Regions from separate parts of the Homo sapiens genome. Here all the other regions are linked to region 1. Evidence: fine-mapped expression QTL. A gene starts in region 1. Each other region holds a variant in brackets. All regions are shown on one strand. Distances are from middle to middle.

Region 1 (4,243 bases):
TTAAAAAAGAAAACTTTACAATTTAAGGTTTACAAAACAAACCTGTGAGTCTCTAAAAGACAACTGAAATAACTAGTTTCCACTAATAGAAACCTTACTTCATTTTGAAGGATAACACATTTTCAAACATTTGAGATCCACCGAGAACAACCAATTTAATTTTTTTCAAAGATTACGGCTTCATTTTTACTAACCATCTCAGACCCAAATGAGTTATTGTGCTTATAGCAGACTCAAACTATCAGTTAGTAGAGCCAGTTCAATGACAAAACAAAGCAAAACCTCCCCCTAATGAAATGAAGTTTGTTACCATATATACACAGCCTTAATTCCATTTCCAAGAACTCAAAATTCCATCAAAAAATCCAAGAGCCATTGTTTAAACCACTGACTTCCAATTAGTAGGTCTCTTGACTTTACAGTTTAAAAAACATTAAATGAATATTGCCAGGAACCTCTTTTTATTGCTACCCACCAACTTACTTGGTGGCCGAAAAATCTAAATCTTGGGAAATCTAAATTACGTGTGTATCCAAAGGTTTATGCCCTGCAGTGTGTGGCTACTTCTATACATTGACTTTTAAATTCTTCTCTGCTTGTTTCCTTGGATGATTTCCTTGCTGATAGTTTTTGTATGATTTCCCACGGGATGGTGCAAACTCACAAAGCACTATTACCCCATAGTTAGACACAATCAGGTATATAAAGAACTGAGAAAAATTACCAGGCTCTGGTTAAAGCAGAAAGGGGTGGCCTGGAAGCTGTCTGGGAAATGGTGTGGAGCACTTTGTGTGGAATTGAGCAAAGGCTCCGGGTGCATCTCTGTCTGAAGGTAGGAATCAAAGATCTGGTCGAGGCAGCTTGAGTTTTCTTCACATGAAACACAACTGGAAAATTCTCCCCGTTGCAAATAATTGGGCGTGGAAGAAATTGGTTCAGGCTCAAAATACAGTCCTAGAGGAGAAAGGAAAAAGGCAGGTTTTTGCATAAAAATTGCAAAACACAGATTTGAATGGAGATCTATACTCTGAATATTTACTATGTCTAGGGGGAAAGGGGGCTTAACAAATCCAGAAAAGTAAACGGGAATGCAATTTTGACTCTTTAGTTGTCCTAGCTAATTCAAGCTCCAGGGAAATGAACATGGTTAATAATGTGGAAACTGGCTGTAAAACTGGTTAGGGCAAAAATAAAAGGATGGTGACCCAATTTGTGTCCAAGTGTCACAGTCAAATAATGGCTCAAACTTCCCCTTTCTTGGGCTGTAAAACCATGGACATCCAGCCCCTACCGGCAGTTCACGTAAACCTCTCAGAAGTAACTGACAAAGTTGTTGAGGCTTTGAGAAAACTTCTGATGCTACGGGAAATAATTCTTTTGACTTATGGTGATTGCTTTTTTGAACTTTTCACTCTTACTCAGTAACTTAAGTTTGGAGGAGAGAATTTTGAGAAGTGATTTAAATGAGAATGCAAATGATAATCATGGAAACCAGGAACATAGAGTACCAATTAACACTATTGGCTCGGAAGTACAAAAAGCAAAAATGTTTTCTCAGTGAACATGTTAACATCATGATGTGATCAAAGTAAGTTGTTAAACATCAAACAAAGATAATCAGTAAACATTACTCCTTTTCCATTTTATTATTAATAGGCCCAATTTGTGATAATTATCTGTAAATGCTGGAAGAAGAGAGGATTAGAGTGTGCTCATCAAAGGGACTAAAGGACACTGTGTTCTTCTTGAGGTCTCAAGTTCCTTTAAGGTGAAGCTACGGTGACACATTTAGTGGGGAGAGGCCATAGGCAGAGGTTTCCTTATATACGACCTCCTTAAACTCTTAGCTGTTGAGTAGCAGAGGTAGGAGTGTTTATGTAATCGAGTTATTCTTATTGGGCTGAGAAAACCTACACTTGTTTGAACTGCTTTCTGGGAACAGAGAAGGGGAGGGAAGCCCCTGTCGGCTGGAAACTAAAGGAACAGAGCAAAGGCATTATTTGAGTGTCTTGGGATGTTCTGTATTCCATCTAACAGTGCACTAAAAAAAGATAAGTTCCTGAGAACAATTCTGATTTTGTAGTTCAGTTTAGTTACTTGGCGATGAGGAACTGGAATAAATGTGAAGAACAAACTCTTGAGACAATATAGCAGAGAGTAGAGAATTCAGAAATGAAGACAACATTTATGCTTGTTTTCTTGCTGGGCTTGCATGTGGAGTGACTATGCCTTTTTCACCTTCTGATTGGTTGGATTCCAATTAAATGGTGGTGCCTATCTTAACCCCTGAATCAAGACTGAAAGACTTTTGAGATGGACTTTTGAAAGAGTGTTTGAGGGAACTGTTAATGCTGGCTGTACTGACCTGCAGAAGATGGTGCAACTGGGTCTGAAAGGTGGACACTGCTGCCTCCGGACCGCTGTCAAAGCAAGAATATCACCGTGAAGCAGGCTGAAAGAAATGCTCTGAAGGGAAAGCTAAGACATTTTGATGAGGACTATGTTTCTTTCTGCTATAAGGTAAGCCAGATTCTTCCTTCTCAGAAAAAGTTGCTTTCTTTTTTTTTTTCAATGTTTGACAAATTTTTGTACAAAATATATTGTAAAAAACAAGTGAAAGGGAAAGTGTCAACAAATATTTTATAGAATTTGAAAGACAGGTGCATAGAATTGCGGTAGGTGTATTAAGTCCGTGTAGAATTTAAAATGCCTTTTGACGTTTATAATCCTTTTAAGATTCAATCTGGAAAATTGCATTGGAACAATGAAAACCTGAAATCGAATCATAAAACAGACTTCTTAAATACAACCAATATTATGTTTTATCTAGATCCAATATTTATGTTTGCTTGCTTGGGGAGTTTTTTTCCTAATATCAGATTCTTCTACTTAAATTTTAAAAGTGATTAATTTTTAGTAAAAAATTAATGTAAATAATTTTATGTGGTAAAAATGTAACAGTTTGAGAAAATGCAGCAAAAGGCTTCCTATTAAACTATTCGATTTAAAATTATTAAGGACTAACATTTATTTAATCTCAACTATCTATGGCTTAGTCAATTATTTTTCTCAAAAATTTCATATACCATCTGGCTACTTAGCCTTAGGGAGTCGTTTCCCCAAAGAACACAATTCTTAATTTTGTTAATTCTGAGTAGCTAAAAATATTCACATGTTCTTAGTATACATGAAATATTAAAATAGAAAATATTTTCTTAAAGCTGTGGTTGGTGAGTTGGAACCTACTTTCATTCTAGTTAATGGTCGGGAATTATTCCAGTACTTTGTATGTTTTGTACTACTATCTATAAAAGTTGCTTTTATTTAAACTACTGTATTTAAATACTTAAAAGTTTATGAGACTGCTCTTTTTAACTATTCAAAGTAAAGCAGCCTGCATTTTTCAGTTGAATTAATAATTATACTGAGTAATTTAGGATTTTTTTTTTTTTTTTAAATTTCAGGTGTGGCTTTAAAGTTTAAAGGTACCCGTATTGCTCTGTGATTCTGTGCTGGGAAGCCGAGCTCACCACACCTCTTTTGGGTTACAGGGCATACTCACTCCCATACTCTGAGCCACAGGGAGAGCTGTGCAGGCAGCCACTGCTGAAACAGGAGGCAGTATTAATTTTGAAAACGATCCATGCTGTAATGTCATGAACCAGGAAGCTGGAATCCTTTACCAGCTCTTTATGCAAATATTTGGCTGCAGCTTGAGCTGAAGGACTTGGAAGGAGTGGGTATTAAAAAATCTGCCTCATTGTAGAGCTTTCCTTAACTCCATTCCTCCCCCGGATTGGCCTGTTTGTCTGCCTCCACCCCATGTTATCTCCCTGAGGTGTGTTTACAATATCCTACTTGATATTATCTTTCTAGTCATGGGTTCACTTTCTACTTTGCTCCAAGAATACAAAGAAAGGCAACTCTCTCTTAGATTTCAAACAGCACAAAAATTCACAGTCTACAATTTATAAAAACACATCAAGGCTGTTTAAAAAATTAATGATTTAAAAAAAGAAAGGTAAATGATATCTTTTGATAACGACTAACTCAAGTTTCCTTTTACCCCAAAGGCAAGTGTGTGTGTGTCTGTGTGTGTGCGTGCATGCGCATGTTTGCAAATTGATCTGGCTGAAATAAGTTTTTTAAAATCGAGTGTTCCAATCCGGCATACACACAGTTTCTTCCGGCACTGCTTGAAGAATATTTGAATTCTTTACTGAATGTCTGTCTCAACCTATAA
Region 2 (4,243 bases), 86 kb before region 1:
GGGACAGGTCATGTCACTTGGTCAGTCATCCTTCCCTCCTAGAGCATCTCCCTCTCCTCCTCATGCTAGACCTTCAACACTCTGGTTTTGCTTTAGTAACTGGGGAGTTTTTCCTCCTGGCTTTTCTCTGCAACCTCTTCCCAGCTGTTCCCAACCCTGAGAGTGGCTAAAGAGGAAATCATGATGGTGCATCCTGTATTTGGGACTAGAGTAGTAGATTTCAAAGTATACAGTTCTTTGGGCAACCAGCATCCTGGAGACCTGAACTCAGCTACCACCGGTCTTCAGTGTGTCCTTCTCAGGCACCCGTGGGTTCTGTGCACCATAGTCAGGTGCTGCTGCTGCTGCCTGAGGGTGTGGAGGGCTGCAAGGAACAGGTGTTTCAATGCTGCCCTTTGCTTTGGATGCTCTAATCTGTCCAAGCTGACATCACAGCCTCTGAGAGGTGAGTGCATATGACCGTCTAGATTAGATAAAGTGACTCATCGTAATTTACAAACTGTGATTTAGTAATCCGGTTCCTTGACTCAGAGTAATAAGAGATCCATGATAACAGTGGATTTGGAGGAAACTTGGGGGAGATCCAGATAGCATCAGCCCACAGTGCTATCCCTCCTAGCAATCTTTGCACTCATTGTTGATGTGTATTGTATGTTCATGAATCTAGGTGACGATATGGTATAATCTGTCATCACTCTGTGGCATATTCTCACTCCTCTCTGTAGTTCAGGCAGTACCATAAGACTCCCCTCAGGGCCCAGGCTCAAGCCTATCCGTGATTGCAAGAATGGCTATCCCTTTTGGGTGCTTACTATTTGCCAGGCACTGTTGTACTGTTTTACACACATCCAATAATCTAACCCTCACAAGAATTCTATAATGTACATACCCAGAGGAGACAAGGTTGGTGGCGGCAGGATCAAACCCAGGCACTTGACTCGCAGGTCTGGGCTCTTAGCTAGCAAACTATGTTACCACTGTGCAGGCTGGAATGTCTATTCTCCCAAAAACTCAGAGCCAAGCAGTGAGGGATGAAGGAGCCAGGTGAGGCCCTGCTTTCTGAGCAAGATAGCTAGGTGTTATAGAAGAGAACTAGATAAGGCTGTGGTTCTCACATGTGATCCCTGGACCGGCAGCCTCAGCATCACCTCGGAATTTGTTAGAAATGCAAGTCCTCTGGCCCTGTCCTGGACCTACCAAATCAGAAACCCTGGGAATGGTGATTTGGATGCATGACAAAGTTTGAAAATCACTAGAGGCCAGCCACGGTGGCTCATGCCTGTAATCCTAGCATTTTGGGAGGCCGAGGCGGGCTGATCACAAGGTCAGGAGATCAAGACCATCCTGGCTAATACGGTGAAACCCCATCTCTACTAAGAATGCAAAAAATTAGCTGGGCATGGTGGTGGGTGCCTGTAGTCCCAGCTACTTGGGAGGCTGAGGCAGGAGAATGGCATGAACCCGGGAGGCAGAGCTTGCAGTGAGCCGAGATCGTGCCGCTGCACTCTAGCCTGGGTGACAGAGCAAGACTCCGTCTCAAAAAAAAAAAAAAAAAAAAAAAAAAGAAAATCACAGGAAAAGGGAAGCTGGAGGCTAGGTTCTAGGTCTATCTTTGCCCTTGCCTAGCTAGGTAACCATAGGCAGGTAATTTCATCTCTCTGGTCCTATTTCCTCATTTTAAAAATGAAGGGCTCACTCTAGATTTATTCACTTTTCATTAATCCAGCAAACATTTATTGAGTGCTTACTGTGTGACTGATTCCGAGAATGCAGAGACACGAAGCTTTCAGAATGGAACGCAATGAGAGCCAGGTGGCTTGGGATCATCTGTGGTTACCACTCCAGTTTCAACCGTAGTTAATTCTTGCTGAAACAATTGTTAGAAAGACTCTCTCTAACCTCCCACCCTTTCTCCTAACTCTAATTTATCTTCACACTGTTGCCAAAGCCACTTTTAAAAGAAGCGTGACTATGACCCCGTCACTCCTCAGTGAAAAACCTTCCATGGCTCCCTATTGCCCATACTTTCCCAAAGGAACACAAATGGAACACAATTGGAAACACATTTCCAAGGATCACAAGCAGCTTGGAACACAGTTCCAAGGACCAGAGAGATGGAACACAATTCCAAGCTGCTTGTGATCCTTGGAAATGTGAGAGGCCTCAGGCATAACTCCGCCTGTGCCGCCCAGGCCTGTAGGATGGCGAGGAGGAAGAAGTCCCGGCCAGCAGAGGTTCTAGGTTCTGCGTAACCTGAGTCCAGTGGCTAAAAAAAGAAAAGACTAGGATTCTCATGTAACATTTGGCAAAACTCTACACTTCCTTGAGCCTCACGTGACATTTCTCCTAGATAAACCTGGCTAAATTCCTGCCTGTATTTCAAAACCTACAAAAAATTTGGAGCGACAGAAAATGGGTGTGTTGGCTCAAGACTCAAGACTCTGAACAGTATGAGTTTGGAGT[T/C]TGTCGCAGCAACTGGGGCCATTGTCTTCAAAAACCAGCATCCTGAATAGGGTCCCTGGGGCTTGATGACTGCCGTTAACATAGTTGGGCTGGAGAACTTGCTCTCCAACTTCAGATGCAGCCACTGATGTCTATATGGTTGTCTACCCCTGAAAAAGAGTAAAGGAACTGTTATCAATTAATCAATGAGACTTTATCGAGCACATACTCTATTACTGTTTTTATGCCAAATTTGCTGGTTACGAAAGAAACCTAAGGTGCTTCCTTGCACCAGAAGTCTGCCAAATTTTCTGCAATCCAGGGCTTGGCATCATTTAATAAATTGGGCCATCCAAACTCCATCGGAGGTGGGTCTGAGTCAGCTTAGCAATCTGCCTGGAACTTTGCTTTGGAGTCTGTGCATCTGCCTGTGAAGTCTGCCTCAACTGGTGCAAAATGGTTGCCTTGTTTTGGGAAGATAAATGGTCTGAGTTGCATCATGAGATGTTCAAGTGGGACTGGAAGGCTTCGAAGAAAGAGGGAGAGTCAAGATGCTCAGAGTCCTGTTGGACTCTTAAAAAACCTTCTGTCTCTGTCGCAGAGTGGAAAGCCCACCAGAGCCTTAGTGCCCACTTCCTGTGGTGTGACTGAGCTTAGGGCTCCCTGAGCTCAGTTCTTACTTTGTTATTGTGAGGGCATTGGCTGGTGTTCAACTGATATTTCTTGAATTTGTTGCATGTAGAATATCTAGGTTGGATGCCATTGATAGTTTTTATCTTTATCCCTTAGCTGGGTTTTTAGAAATGCTTTTCTGAATGTGCCCAAGATGTTGATTTTGAAAGATACTTTATGACCCACTGCTTTCTTTGTTCTGATGGGAAGATATTTGTTCTGGCTGCCTCTCCTCTACCTCTCCCCACTTCCACTGGAATGTAAGCTCTAAGAAGTCAGGAGACTTACTTTCCTTGTTCACTGTTCCATCCTTAATGCCAAATACAGACTGGATGACAGTGGGATGACATTCAGCAAATATTTGCTGAATGAATGAGTGCATGAATGAATGAATGGATGGATGGATGAATGATCAGCTGTTTGGGACTTAACTTTCTTGTGTGTGTGCATGTTGTGGGGAATAATGTGATGTGGTGATTATAAGCTATGGAGTCAGATTGCCCAGATTATAATCCTGGCTCTTCTACTTATAAACTGTGCATTTTAGCCAAGTTTCTTAACCTCACTGTGTTTCCTCATATGTAAAATGAGGCTAATACTTCAAAGCATTGTTATGCAGATTAAATGAACTAATATGTGTAAAGTATTTAGAACAGTTCCTCGCTATATGATCAGTGCTCCAGAAGTCTTAGCTTTCGTTGGCTTTGTGAGCTGGAAGGCACACATGGAACTCCTGGAGTTGTTTTATCTCCTTCTGCCTCCCTCCACTTTTGTTTTTTTATGGTGTGATTGTGTCTAGTTGTGGGACACATTAATTAAGAGAGTTTTTTTAAAAGAAAAACGTACTCATGCCGATCAGTTTATATTTATTGTGCACCTGTTACATTTATTATACCTTTTTCTAAAAGAAAATTAGTATTTTCTCCCACAGATAGTGATAGCAACACTGGGTTCAAGTCAAAATCTGTCACATTCATTATTAATGAAAAAGTAGTAATAACAGAACTAGCTACCATTTATAGAGTCTTTTCTATATTCTGGGCATTGTGCACTTTGGTGGACCACGGATCATGGATACCCAGGTATTGACTGAATGTCAGACTTTGTCTCTGGGTTCACTGAGGCCAGG
Region 3 (4,243 bases), 510 kb before region 1:
CAGCCTCCAGAACTGTAAGGAAGTAAATTTCTTTTCTTTATAAATTATCCTGTCTCAGATATTCTGTTATAGCAACACAGATTGGACTAAGACAGTTGCTCTTAAGTGTGATTCTTCTGTTTATTTCCTTTGGATTCTGTAATCCCTTTCCCAATAGCAGGAATGCAGTCATGGATCTGAATAGAGTCATATATTTTGATGGCACAGTGAGAAGGCCCTTACCAGACACCAGCACCTTGATTTTGTTTAGTAGATTTATTACGATATGATGTGATCTTTATTGTATGGTATTATGGAGGAAATAGATTGTCCTCCAGGGGCTAGAAGCTAAGGGAAGAAATTCTTGGCACTTACAAATAAGCTGGTCATAGTTTTGAACAGCGTGGTGTTGGAAGTTGTCCAGCATCCTGGTGTGGCTGGTCACCATTCTTTCCTTCCGCAAATACTTTTTGACTGCCTGAGATATGCCAGGTACTGTACCAGGCACCAGGTGTATTGTGCTTATAAAGACAGATTCAGTTCTTGCCTTCACAGAGCTTACAAGGTTCAGCTATAAGAAGGCTTGGGCCTTGCTGCAGTTGCTCACAGAGGGATTTGAGGAGATGTGATGAATCAGAATTTATTATGTGTTTGGAAGGAAGACATTCTGAATGCTGCTTAAAAGCTAAGTATTAAATTAATAACATATGTCAGCCATTGTGGCTGCTGGATAGTCTCAGTTATGACCAAATTTTACTTAGCTGTGGGCAAACTGTCTAAACAGTTTTTTCAGCTTTAATCCTCCCACTTGCCTAGGAGTTTACAGGGCAGTTGATTTAGATTGATCTTTCACATTATCCCCTTGGACTCTTAGAGGATTCATGATGACAGTTGTTTACCAGAGGATTTTCAGTGACATATGAGAAATAAGATCTGTCTTCTGTGTGGAGATGGTTTCTCTGTGATGTTCCCTGAACCTCATGTTGGCCCTTGCCAGAGATCTCTATTTTTACAGCTACTTGCGTCATTGTCATTTCCAGCTGATAGATGATTGAATGCAACTTCACATCCTTCCTGTCTTAGGACTTGTGGGGCTTTGGCTCAGGCAGCTGGATAGACAGCAGAGAAGGTCACTGAGAATAGGAGGTTGGACTATTAGTTCTTTCCTTGTCCCCACATGGCATTCTAAACTGTGATAAAATTATTTGATACAACCATTGAACCCATTCCTCCTGTTGCCTTTTCTCAGTCTTCAGATCCCCATAGTGTTTCTGTAGCATTTGAAATCTACTCTTCACCCAGATTTTCAAAACTGTGTACTTCTTTGATTCTTCTATGTCCTGTCTTCTGGTTCCCTTCATCCTTGGCTGCTTCCACTTCTTTCTTCTGCCCAGTGCTACGGGCATCTTCTCAGCTTTATCTGTGGTCTTTGGCCCTCTCTGTTTGTTTTTTGTCTCTCTTCTGCTCTTTTACCTTTTCTTCCCTCCTTCACTTCCTCTCCCTTTTTTTCATGCATTCTTCATGTATTTGTTAAGTAGACATTTACTTAGGACCTACTGTATGTTTTGTACTGTGCTAGGTTTTTGGCATAGAAGAATGAATGAGATAGACACAGCCCCAGATTTTATGGAGCTTACAATGAATTTCCCAATTAATTAATAGAATATAATTGTAAAATGTTTTGAGAAGTACTGGTTGCTATAAGAGCATGTAATTTAGGCCCTGTCCTAGTTTAAGAGGTCAGTGAAGTCTTTCTTAAGGAAATCATTTTTAGCTGAAATCTGAAGGATGAGTAGGAATTTATGAGGGGACAACAGGGAATGTTCCACGAGTAGGAACAGAAAACAGTTCTCTAACTCAGTATTTTAGTCATATTGGTCTTCTTTCAGTTACAGTTGTGTGCTGCTCAGTGACACTTTGATCTAGGGCAGACTGCATGTTTGATGGTGGTCCCACAAGATTATTATGGCTACACCATACAGCCTAGGTGTGTCATAGGCTATACTGTCTAGCTCTGTGTAAATACACTCTATGATGTTCACATAATGATGAAATCATCTAAGACACA[T/C]TTCTCAAAACCTGTCTCCCTCGTTAAGTGACGCATGACTGTACTTGAGTACCCCATGCTTCTTCCCACCTCATTAGGTGTAAGACACAAGTTATCATCTTTCCTCAATGTCACCCAAACCTATTCTTTACTGCAGCCTTAGTTCACTGAATTAGAAATCTTGGTGTCACTGGTTTCATTTGAAATAGAAGTGAGGGCCAGGTGTGGTGGCTCACGCCTGAAATCCCAGCACTTTGGGAGGCCGAAGTGGGCGGATCACCTGAGGTCAGGAGTTTGAGACCAGCCTGATCAACATGGTGAAATCCCGTCTCTATTAAAAATATAAAAATTAGCCAGCCGTGGTGGCGGGCCCCTGTAATCCCAGCTACTCAGGAGGCTGAGGCAGGGGAGAATCGCTTGAACCTGCGAGGTGGAGGTTGCAGTGAGCCGAGACCGCACCACTGCACTCCAGCCTGGGCGACAGAGCAAAATCTGTCTCAAAAAAAAAAAAAAAAAAGAAATACAAGTGAGATTTGTCCTTTCTTCTTTCTTCATTCCCACTGCCATAGAAATATCAGAAGGTGATGTAGAGGCAGGTGGATCACTTAAGCCCAGGAGTTCGAGACCAGCCTGGGCAACATGGTGAAACCCTGACTCTACAAAATACAAAAAAAATTAGCCAGGCGTGGTGGTGTGCACCTGTTGTCCCAGCTACTTAGGAGGCTGAGGTAGTAGGATCACTTGAGCCTGGGGAGGTCGAGACTGCAGTGAGTTTTGTTTTTTATTTTTTTTTGAGTCAGAGTCTCGCTCTGTCTCCCAGCCTGGAGTGCAGTGGCGTGATCTTGGCTCACAGACTGCAGTGAGTTGTGATTTGCACTACTACACTCCAGCCCGGGTGACTGAGTGAGTCCCTGTCTAGAAAGAAAGAAATATCAGAAGGCATTATCACTTCACAACTGAATATTACAGTAGTAACTAGAGTGCTTACTTCAGCTTTTTCCTCCAACACTTTCTTGCCTCATCCTCCGCAGCATAGCTAGTATAGGCCTCTCTTTCTAAGACCCTGTTTTTTATCATCTTACTCCTTGGCTGAAAAACCTAGAATAGATTCCTGATGCATAAAATCCAGATTCTCTTCCTTTGGATCCTCCATTATCAGTCCTCAGACTGTCTCACTCTCGTTTTGTTTCTCAACAAACACCTTTTGGGACAGGTAGATATTCTTCCTCTTCCCCCTGTCAACCATGCTCCTTTATGTCTTTTTCCCTCTGTTTTCTCTTTAACTTTTATTACCAACTTTAGGAAGTCTTTTCAACTACTGTAGCCTCCAGTGATCTCATCCTCTCTGAACTCTGAATTTTTAATAACACTTTCTGCATTTCATATATGCTAATGTCATTTCCTTACCTAAATTATAAGTTTAAGAATGACTTGGGGCTGGGTGTGGTTGCTCATGCCTGTAACCCAGAACTTTTGGAGGCCAAGGCGGGAGGAATCACTGGAGACCAGGAATTCAAGACTGACCTCGAAAAGTTAGTGAAACCTTGTCTCTATTTTAAAAAATTTAAAAATTAGCCAGGCATGGTGGCACATGCCTGTGGTCCCAGCTACTTGGGAAGCTGAGCTGGGAAGATCACTTGAGCTTGAGAGGTTGAGGCTGCAGTGAGTTATGATCACATCATTGCACTCCAGCTTGGGCAACAGATTGAGACCCTGTCTCCAAAAGAAAGAAAGAAAGAATGGCCAGCTGGACATGGTGGCTCATGCCTGTTATCCTAGCACTTTGGGAAGCTGAGGTAGGAAGATTGCTTGAGGCCGTAAGTTCAAGACCAGCCTAGGCAGCATAGCAAGACCCCCGTCTCTACAAAAAATAAAAATAAATTAACTAGGCCTGGTGGCGCATGCCCGTAGTGCCAACTACTTGGGAAGATCACTTGAACCCAGGAGGTTGAGGCTGCAGTGAGCAAAAGAAAAGAACAAGGACATGTTATGACTTATATGTAATTTTATATACTCTAGGATTCACCAAATAGATACTTAATAAATGCTTTGAGGATGCCTAGAAGATTCCTTTTTTGCTTTTTGATCTGCAATTTTATTGCCTGTCAGGACAAATTGTATCACCCTTCAAATACATTCAACAAATTCAATACTCAAAAGTGTAAAATCATAGTGCCCAACAACTAATCAAAACTACTAAATTGTGAAGAGGCAAGA

Evidence for each region. PIP is the estimated chance that this variant, and not a neighbour inherited with it, causes the effect.
Region 2: its variant is the best candidate, but not a certain one, in a credible set for the expression of COLCA1 in esophagus mucosa (GTEx, PIP 0.57).
Region 3: its variant is the best candidate, but not a certain one, in a credible set for the expression of COLCA1 in esophagus mucosa (GTEx, PIP 0.51).

What each region holds. Positions count from the first base shown.
Region 1 is chr11:111,303,105-111,307,347 of GRCh38, reverse strand. It overlaps COLCA1 (colorectal cancer associated 1), which reads left to right and starts at 2,300. Exons shown (of 2, transcript NR_169237.1): 1 at 2,300-2,520. POU2AF3 (POU class 2 homeobox associating factor 3) reads right to left here. Exons shown (of 5, transcript NM_001271458.2): 3 at 2,366-2,420; 4 at 725-954.
Region 2 is chr11:111,389,491-111,393,733 of GRCh38, reverse strand. It overlaps a transcript of BTG4 not described here. Among named protein-coding and RNA genes, the nearest start is that of POU2AF1, 12 kb to the right of the region's middle. The variant T/C (reference allele first, on the strand shown) is at 2,464.
Region 3 is chr11:111,816,078-111,820,320 of GRCh38, reverse strand. All of the region lies in intron 13 of ALG9 (ALG9 alpha-1,2-mannosyltransferase), which reads left to right. Among named protein-coding and RNA genes, the nearest start is that of PPP2R1B, 52 kb to the right of the region's middle. The variant T/C (reference allele first, on the strand shown) is at 2,048.